Linked DNA regions of Homo sapiens. The protein of the gene in region 2 purifies or fractionates together with the protein of the main gene of each other region. This does not show direct contact. Each region holds a gene or a part of one and is shown on either strand. Other genes may lie near its edges.

Evidence for each region. Proteins that work in one complex are often made in the same cells at the same time.
Region 1: the proteins of PMEPA1 (region 2) and PHLPP1 purify together in Homo sapiens (affinity purification with western blotting, with the first as the bait; one study listed by BioGRID). This does not show direct contact.

Annotation. Positions count from the first base shown.
Region 1 is NC_000018.10:62,895,995-62,900,574, forward strand, and holds part of PHLPP1 (PH domain leucine-rich repeat-containing protein phosphatase 1), read left to right. Parts: coding exon 1-17; intron 18-4,580. UniProt on the Homo sapiens protein: Protein phosphatase involved in regulation of Akt and PKC signaling.
Region 2 is NC_000020.11:57,699,146-57,704,716, forward strand, and holds part of PMEPA1 (protein TMEPAI), read right to left. Parts: intron 1-5,571. UniProt on the Homo sapiens protein: Functions as a negative regulator of TGF-beta signaling and thereby probably plays a role in cell proliferation, differentiation, apoptosis, motility, extracellular matrix production and immunosuppression.

The sequences.
Region 1 (4,580 bases), on a different chromosome or scaffold from region 2:
AAACATGTGGATCTAAGGTAACCATTTTTGAGAAATAGATCTCATTTGAGTGGCTGGCTTATATTGCAGGGGTGGGGAGTAGGTTATTAACCAAGGCAAACAAGCTGGGTAATTGAATGTGGGCCCGTTTTTCTATTTCTGCCTAGAGGGAAGAATTATGATTAATAGTAGGGTTTGCTATTACTGGAAACTCTCACTGATGTATGTCTTGAAGGTCTTTGTTTTGCAGATTGGAACCCAGTTGAGTGAGAGAGCTGTTTTTTGTTGTTGTTGTTGGTTTTTGTTTTTTTTGTTGTTCTTGTTTTTTTTTTTTTTGAGTCAAAGTCTCGCTCTGTCGCCCAGGCTGGAGTGCGGTGGCCTGATCTCGGCTTACTGCAAGCTCCGCCTGCCAGGTTCATGCCATTCTCCTGTCTCAGCCTCCCTAGTAGCTGGGACTACAGGCACCCACCACCATGCCTGGCTAATTTTTTTGTATTTTTAGTAGAGACGAAGTTTCACTGTGTTAGTAGCCAGGATGGTCTCGATCTCCTGACCTCGTGATCCACCCGCCTCGGCCTCCCAAAGTGCTGGGATTACAGGCATGAGCCACCATGCCCGTCCTGTTTTTTGTTGTTGTTTTTAAAGAGATGGGGCCTTGCTCTCTTGCCCGGCCTGGAGTGTAATGATGTGCTCAGAGCTCACTGCAGCCTCAAACTCCTGGGCTCAGGTGATCTTCCTGCCTCAGCCTCCCAAGTACTCAGGCATGTTCAGTTTCATCAGTGTAAAGGAGCATCACCTTTTGCTCCCCTTTCTTCTCCTTTCATATGGTTCAGCCTAGGAAACCTATACATTCCAGTCCCATAAAGAATTGCTTGGCTTCACCTTTCCTCAGAATAAAGGAATCAGACCTGTCCCTCCTAGGGAAGTATTAGCAATTTGCAGATATAAAATTCTTAATTTGGAGGTAAAAGTGGTTATAATTTATCTGATTTTTGAGAATTTCTTGGAATGTGACAAGATAAGGAACTCTAAACACTTTGTTAACTTGCTTTCTAAATTGTTAACATTATTTGCCTCTTGAGTTCCTTGTATTTAGAAAACCCTCATATTCCAGAATTTGAGCCCTATTTTATTCATCCACCAGTGGTAGAACTTCATTAGAGCCAAGGACAATGGCTTGCACTGACCTCAGGTAGTAAGAATGAGATGATTTCTGAGTTACCTGGTACATGTAGGGAGACATCATTTTTCTTGATCTGAATTAGCTTACACATAAGATCAATCTGAAATGTCTGGAAGTAATAAATCTTAGTAAGAGCTTTATAAATTCTTCAGATTCATAGTTCTAACTTGAGTTTTTAGATGACATCACCTACAGGATATTTAAATACCAGAATAGACATTAGACACTCTGTAAATGTTGCATGACCATGAGTAACTGCTTCCTTCCTGGCTCCTGAGCTGAGGAGGGGAAAATCAGATAGGTTTGTTCTAATTCTGCCTTAATACTTTATTTGTTGTTTATTGTTTTTGTTTTTGCTTCTGTTTTCAGAGATAGAGTATCTGTCTGTCGCCCAGGCTGGAGTGCAGTGGCATGATCTCAGCTCACTGCAACCTCCACCTCCTGGGTTCAAGAGATTCTCCTCCCTCAACCTCCCGAGTAGCTGGGATTACAAGTGCCCGCCACCACACCTGGCTAGTTTTTGTATTTTTACTGAAGACAGGGGTTCACCATATTGGCCAGACTGGTCTTGAACTCCTGACCTCAAGTGATCCACCTGCCTCGACCTCTCAAAGTGCTGGAATTACAGACATGAGCCACCACACCCAGCCTAATTCTGCCTTAATACTTAAAATCAAAGCTAGTGGAGTAATTTAAGGAGAGTCTTGCTTAGTTTCTCTAAGTAAAGGGCCACTTTTATTCAATTTTTTTTCCCTTTAAATGGAAATGGTACATCAGATTGATTATTTTTTTCTTTGCATTGATGTTGTTTGAGTTTGATATTATTTCTTCTGTGGCATCATTAATAATTCCTCCTCCCTTCTCCTCTTTCTCCTCTTTGTACAAAGTGTGGCTGTTACTTCTTGGTCAGTTCTCTTTCTATCCATGTTTTCTGCCTTGGGGGTTGCATATACTCTCAGGCTTCATTTTCACCTTTCATCTTGATGTTAATCATTCCCCAGTCTTTCCCTATTCCTTCTTTGACTTCTTGAGACCAGTTCCACTTAAGCTGCCAGCTGGATAACTTCTTGGTTTTCCCTATTCACACATTTAACCAAATACATGTAAAACAGAGTTCAGTGTCTTTCTTACTCAACCAATTCTTTCTCATGGATTTCTTTTTTTGCTGATAGCAACACCACCTCATTGGTTTTCCAGACACACAACTCTTGGCTGATTCTGTCAGCTCTTCTTTTACATGAGTTTCTGTCTTTTATCCCTTCCTTTTTCTTCTCACTGTGACTGTTGTCTTCTACCTGAGCCATTTGCTTCCATTGTGCAGCCTCCCAAGCAAGCACAATTTTGCTCAGAGCCTGCGGTTCTCTAGTTCAAGGTACTCAAGCCCTCATATTTGGTTTCAGCCCACTGGTATGTGAGTCATTTGAGGATGAGGCTCTATCTCTGAGCTGCTCATGTGTGGGCCTCCAACCTGTGGTGGCAAGTTAACTATTTGCTACTTTTCCACAATGAGATGTGTACAGAAGTTAAGACTAATATTTTAGTAACATATAATGATTTGACATTGCCACAATATCCAACTGCATTACGAGTTGATTCTTGCTGTACAGGGAATCAACTAGTTTTTTTTATTTTGTTTTATTTATTATTATTATTATTATTTTTTGAGACGGAATTTCTTGTTGCCCAGACTGGAGTGCAGTGGTGTGATCTCGGCTCACTGCAACCTCCGCTTCCCAGATTTAAGCAATTTTCCTGCCTCAGCCTCCCAAGTAACTGGGATTACAGGCGCCCATCACCATGACCGGCTAATTTTTTGTATTTTTAGTAGAGACAGGGTTTCACCATGTTGGCCAGGTTGGTCTCAAACTCCTGACCTCAAGTGATCCAACTGCTTCGGCCTCCCAAAGTGCTGGGATTACAGCCATGAGCCACTGCGCCTGGCCTCAACTAATTTAGATGTTGTCAAACTTGCACAGTGAGTTGCATGTGATGTGAGCTGTGTATGGGTTGTGTACTATACATCAGTCTGTCATGAATTACAACTTTAGAAAATAGGTCTCCTTCACCATAGATAATTTAAGCACTGTTTTTATTTATCCTTCAACCCCAGTGTGAGTCCTTAGTAGGTCCAGTCCTTGGTTAATTGCCTCACCCACCTTTGTAGCACAGACCCTTGCATCCCCTGCCCTCCTGTAGAAGCTATTCAGGCAGGCACCAAACTTGCCCTGTGCTCTTCTGTTTGATGCAGAGGCTGTTCCATTGCTTCCTCGCACCTGCTTTTCTTCTCCCATGTACACCTGTTCCATTCTGCCTACTCTTGGGAATCAGATGATTTGCTTCCTTTTCCATAGCCTCTTTTTTAAAAAACCATTCTCTACATTTTATACATCATTCGTGGCACTTACCACATACCTGTAGTTCCTGTATTTTATAAAACATATTTGACTCTCCTTACTAAATTGTGAAATCTGTTGAAAAACACCTTGTTTTATTCATCTCTTACTGCAACAAAGCCATAGGTCATCATCGTTGTCACCATCACCATAGCCCTTCTACAGGCTGGAGTGCAGCGGTACAAGCGCAGGTCATTAGAGCCTTGATCTCCTGGACTTAAGTGATCCCCCTCCCTCAGCCTCCTGTGTAGCTGGGATGAAAAGTACACACTACCACACTTGGCTAATTTTTAAATTTTTTAGAGAGATGGGACCGCAGTTTGTTGCCTAGGCTGGCTCAAACTCTTGGGCTCAAGTTGTTCTCCTGCCTTAGCCTCCCCAAGTGCTGAGAATTACAGGCATGAGTAACCACGCCTGGCCAGAAGGGAATTTTCATCATATTTTGCCTTTTAAAAAGTTTGTCTGGGCCAGGTGCAGTGGCTCCTGCCTGTAATCTCAGCACTTTGGGAGGCCGAGGCAGGTGGATCACCTGAGGTCAGGAGTTCAAGACCAGCCTGGCCAACATGGCAAAACCCCGCCTCTACTAAAAATGCAAAAATTAGCTGGCTGTGGTGGCATGTTCCTGTAGTCCCAACTACTCGGTAGGCTAAGGCAGGAGACTTGTTTGAACCCAGGAGGCGGAGGTTGCAGTGGGCCAAGATCGCACCACTGCACTCCAACCTGGGTGACAGAGCAAGACTTTGCCTTAAAATAATAAATAAATAAATAAATAAATAAATAAATAAATAAATAAATAAATAAAAAGTTTGTCCTAGTTACATCATGGTGACTGTGGTCAACAATATGTTGTAGTTGTTTGTATTCTTGTTTTTTCTTTTTCTTTCTTTTTTTTTTTTTTTTTTTTTTTTTTTTGAGACAGGGTCTCACTTTGTTACCCAAGCTGGAATGCAATCACAGCTTGTTACCCAAGCTGTGGTGCAATCACAGTTCACTGCAGCCTCAAACTCCTGGGTTCGAGTGATCTT
Region 2 (5,571 bases):
GAACCTTATGGGACAGCTTGTGCAGTCTGTGGGTGTTGCCCACATCAAGGATGTGCAAGCCTAGTGGGCAGCTTGATGCAAGAAGGAGCCAACCTGAGCTCCGCCCAGCTCACACTCTCGGGCAGCCATCCTGCTTACCACCAATCCCTACTTACCATCGGCACCAACACTCTCGTGGCCATTTATTGAGCATCTACTAGGAATTAGCCCTGTGATAGGTGCTTAAAAGACAATTTGTTTAATCACCTCCGTGCAGTAATTATAAATCCTAGTTTATAAATCAGTCAGCCAAGATCAGGGAGAGTAAGGAGCTGACCAAAGACTCCACATCTAGAAAGCGGCTGAGCTATGTTAAAGAGCCCCAGGACCCCGCCACAGTCTCTCTCCCTGTGCAACTACCAGGTGCCAGGACTGCCCCACAGGCCAAGCAAGGCGTGTGGGGTGCAGGGCAGTCTCTCGGGATTTGGTCTAGATGAGCAGAGGGGTAACTAGGCAACTGAGACCACTGGTGCTGAAAACCTCCTGGGGGAAAGAGCAGTTTGCATTGCTCAAAATTTCTGAAAAACCGATTCAGCTTCCTACTTCTCTTGCTGCCGAGGACATGGCCTGGAAAATCTGATTTCACCTGCCTGGGGGAACCCGGGGCAAAGCTGGGAGAAGGTCAGGCTCACCTGAGCTCACCCTGTGACACACCTGTGGGAGGTGGGATGTCCGTGGTGGACTCCAACAAGGGACCTCAGAGAAGCCTCCCGGCCTCGGCGGTTGGAACGCACATGTTTCGACAGTCCGCGTTTTACATATATCATACATAAAATACAAATGTATATTGTATATACTTGAAGATACGTGGCTCTAAATATAAAAACACACCTTTTTGTATTCTTAACCACTGACACTCAGGCAAATTCATGGCTGGATTTGTCACTTTCATGCTCCCAAAGCCAGTGATGGAACTGGCCCCTCCTGGAGACCTTAAGGACCAGCAGAGACTCTTCCACTCCTGATGCTGATGCGACTTGCATACTGGGAATCCATGACAACCTGTCAATGACAATAGAGGCTGACAGCTGCCACTGACAGACCCCTCCACAGGCCCATGCTTTACCGAACATGTTCGGGGGAACAGGGAAACTGAGGTACACAATAACTCCACTTCCACCAACTGTCAAAATGTTTATTGATCTATTTGGTGCCAAGATCGTGCAACTTTTATCAACACAAATAAGCACTTGGCACAGCCACCTCCCCTGAAGCCCCAAAAGCCTATAGTGGGGGCAAATGATATAGGACAGTTTCTTAAGACTTAAAAGGCAAAGTGGCATCTCGAACCTGCATGGCTGTTAGGTGGTTCTAGCTGTGGCCGTCCAGCCCAAGGGGAGTCTAGCACCACTGCTAAGGAGGATTGCGAGGTGTTTCTTGCTGATGGTGAAGAGTTGGTTCGTGGAGGTCACAATCAACCTTTATCCACCATCCAGATCCCAGAGCCACTGGGGATTTTCAACTTGTTACTAAATAAAATTCTCTTTTCTGCCAGTAGAGCCATTTCCCAAGCCCACTGAAACAATAACAAATGATTTTAGTTAAAAGACATCAAAAAAGGAGCCGGGCATGGTAGCTCACACCTGTAATCTCAGCACTTTGGGAGGCTGAGGCGGGCAGATCACCGGAGGTCAGGAGTTTGAGACCAGCCTGGCCAACATGGCAAAACCCTGTCTCTACTAAAAATACAAAAAAACTAGCCAGGTGTGATGACTCATGCCTGTAGTCCCAGCTACTTGGGAGACTGAGGCAGGAGAATCACTTGAACCCGGGAGGTAGAGGTTGCAGTGAGCTGAGATCGCACCACTGCACTCCAGCCTGGGTGACAGAGCAAGACTCCATTTCAAAAAAAAAGAAAAGAAAAGAAAAAAGAAGACATCAAAAAAAAAAAGAGAAGAAAATCAGACTATAGTTCGAATCTTTCTGACATCCTTATTAGTTTATGGCAGGCACTGATTCCAAGCCACCTTTCTTCCTACCCCCATTCCCATTAACAACAGGTACATATTAGAATGTGCTGGAGCATTAGGAATAGCTGATCACCACCTGATACCGCCGAAGTTGAGTCACAATAGCTGCTTAGCTCGGTCCAGCATATGGCATCTCAACATCACCTCTGAGCAAACTCCACCTTCCTCCGTGAGGACAATAACCCCAAAACACTCCCAGTCTGCAGCAAGTGTGTGCCAAGAAGAATCACCCTAGGAATTCTCCTTCTGGGGGCCTGCAGCAAGCTCTGGCAATGCGTTTTTGCCATTTGATGGCCTTTGGAGGACTAAAGCCATCACTGTGAAACCTTGACCACCCAGGGCAACTGGAGCGGGTGCAGGGGAGGTGGGTCTGCATTGACTTCTGTACCTGCCCCTTAGCTCTAGAAGAGAGGGCAGGTATGAAACTCGGGCACAGTTTCCTGCCCCCAATAGTGGAAACTTTGGAGCATTAAAAATCACATTTTGTACCAGAGGTGCTTTTCAGGTAACGGTCCTGACAACCCCATAGAACAGATGTCATTCTTCCTTCCACCTCACAGAGGGTCAACTGGAGACTCGGGAGGATACCACGCTCACCCCCAGAATGAAGGTCTTCAAAGCCTGTATCTTGACCACAAGAATCTGGAATCTCTTGAAAGTTCACCTGCCCACTTCCTCCCTTCATCCAACGCACATGAGACTCCTACCAGGTTCAGGGACACAACCAACAACAACCCCTCGGTGCTTGGTGCCTGGAGGGAAAGCAGACATGGCACAGCTAATGACACAAAGATTCGATTACTGCCATGACAGGTGTGACAGGAGGAAGGCCAGGGTGCTCCTGGGCCCCAAACAGGACACCAGGCTGGGGGTCTCCCTAGGCGAGGCCCTGAAGGTGCCTCTGAGTGTGGCCTCTCAGCTTCCCTTCTGAAATGACTCGTGTTCTTTCACCTGTCTCCCTACAAGGGCAGCAGCTCGTAGAGGGCAGGAATTTGTCTGTGTCGTTCCCTGACGTTCTGCGGCCCTGGGAACAGCACCGGAGGTCAGAGGTGTGTGGCAGATGGTGCTGAACGCTGAGCCCCTGCGGAGGCTGTGTCTAGTGATGTCCCCTATCAAGTCTACATTTGATTCCCTGGGAACATTCCCCAGCTACTCCCCAAACCCCCGCCACGACATCTGTTGGTGCTGGTATGTCAGAGATGCACAGAGAGCTGGAGACAGAGACACCAGCTCCTCATGCAGCCTGACAAGGCACGTGTGTTTTGGGGAGACATTTCCAATGAATGTCAGCCGGTGTCTTGCCAGAGCAGAATGGACCCAATTGCTCTGAGAGGTGGCCAATTCGTATGTGTTCTTCCCTAACAAATGGTCCAATATGGGCTTGCAGTCTTGGGAGCCTAAAATAGCACTGCAATGGCCAATCTTGCAAAGAAAGCCCTGGAGCTCAGGAGGTCGGTGTAGTGGAAAAGAAAGCCTGGGAGTGTGGACTGCAAGGTCAGGGAGCTTGCGTTTGAATCCCAATGGAGCATCAGTTCCTGGCTGTGTGACCTCGAGCAAGTATCTTACACTCTCTGATCCCATTTTTGTATCCGCAGATTGGTGCAATAGCTCTCTCAGGGTTGTTTTGAACACTGAGAAAAATGCGTCACTAATACCTGGCACATAATAATCTCTTCACATTCAACTAGGAAAAAGAGCAGAAGCAAAAAAATCCATCAGTAACCCAGGAACAGAAAAGAGAAGCCATTCTGTGGCTCTCGGATAGTCTGGGGATGCCCCAAGCTCTTCCAGGCTCACCCCAGGGTGCTGAAGCCCCTGCCCTGGCTGGTAAGTCATTCTGGGATTTTTCCCGGTTTGGTGACAAACAGTTCTGCCAGTGCCTGCCTGACAAGACCCTGACGAGACCCCTGAGGTGTCAAGGTTTGGCTTTGTAGTGTCATCCAACGGGAAAATGAGGTTGACTGTCAGTACTCGGCACTGTCACAGCTTCACAGAGGGGTGCAGCCCACCCTGGGGAGAAGGCAGGAAGGAGTGCTTGGAGCAGAAGTGAAACTGAAGACCGGCCCCTCCCCGGCCCTCCCCCGCTGCACCTGTTGATGGGGGTGGGGGACATCAGGGCCTTTCTTTTAATGGTTTGCCCCCACATATGATCACCTGTTAAAAATTTCAATTGATTCTCACAAAGGGGAGCCCCAAACCATCAGAAGCTTCTGGGCTTTCTGCTCCCAGGTTAGGCTGTCTTAGGAACTGCAGCCAGTGGGGCATCTGGACGTCAGGGCGGTGTTGACCTCACGGCCCCAGTTTTGTGCCTTGCCTTGTACCCCCTCTTCCAGCCTCTGTCCACCAAGCCTGGCAGTGGATTAAGGGAACCCTGCTGGCAGACCCGAAGAGACCGTCTGGGGCCTCTTGGGCCAGCAACGGGCATGCTGGGGTCGTTGCCAGCCAGGTCTGCGGTGGGCCTGGCAAGGACAAGGAGTATTACACAGATAGTCAATTACCTCCATGTTCAAGGCCATGGGCCCCAGATGGGCCTGTTGATTCCAACCTTCCCAGCCAGTCCGAGGATGGGCAACCTTTTTCTGGTGAAGGCCTTCTCATCACTAGGCACTCTGTTACAGAGTGACCGCTAGGGAACCAGGCAGAATGGACCATCGAGTCCAATCCGCCCCACCATCATCGCTCACCTCTATGAACACACAGCTGCTCCAGACACTAGGCCACACACAGCCAGAATCTCTCTGCACCCTCAGCACAGGGACTATTATCACCCCACTTTACAGACCCATCAGATGACAGTGAAGGGGGGCACAAAGGGGACACGGCCAGCAAGTTTTGACGCCTCCATCCCTCTGGCCCTCGGTCTCACTCCTAACCCACCCACAGCAGGGCAGGTCACTTGATGAGACAGATGGGGTCTGCCAGCAGGTTCTGTGGGGCTTCTTGGTGACAGGGGAGACAAAAGGAACTGCCAGCACTTAAAACCCAGGAGTTTTATGTCAAAATCTAACCATTCGGCTGCCCTGGAACGGAAAGATCTGGCCACTCAGGGCCCATGTGGCAATGGTGGGCTGAGCAGTGGCCACAGTGCCTTTAAACTGGACTCTTGCCCCTGGTTCCCTGGAGCCCACCCCAAAGACAACTGAGTTTGCTTCCCTGAACCATGCTCCCCCAGCCTCGGGGAGCCCCTGGCACAGCATGGTACCATCCTTGTCACTCCAGAGGGTGCATGAAGAGTAGGTCCGTCTCCCGCACAGCTCCCGCACGTGCCCCAACCATGCGTGCGTTACGCAACACTTTGTAAAAAGCAAAAAATGGGCCCTCGGCTTCAATCTCCTTCTCTCAGCATGTGCACCGTACAGAACCCGAGGCTGGCAGCAGCACAGCCTCCGAAATTCACCGTGTAAGAGTTCCTTCTCTTTGGGCAGGATCCCAGACACCGAGGTGCCTGCAAACTTGGTCTCTGGATGCTAACACCTGAAGAGAGAAGGCCACACCGATCCTCAGGTTTGGACCCTGCCACCAGCACCTTCCTCCAAACATTTTCTGGCTTTTAAACTATTGA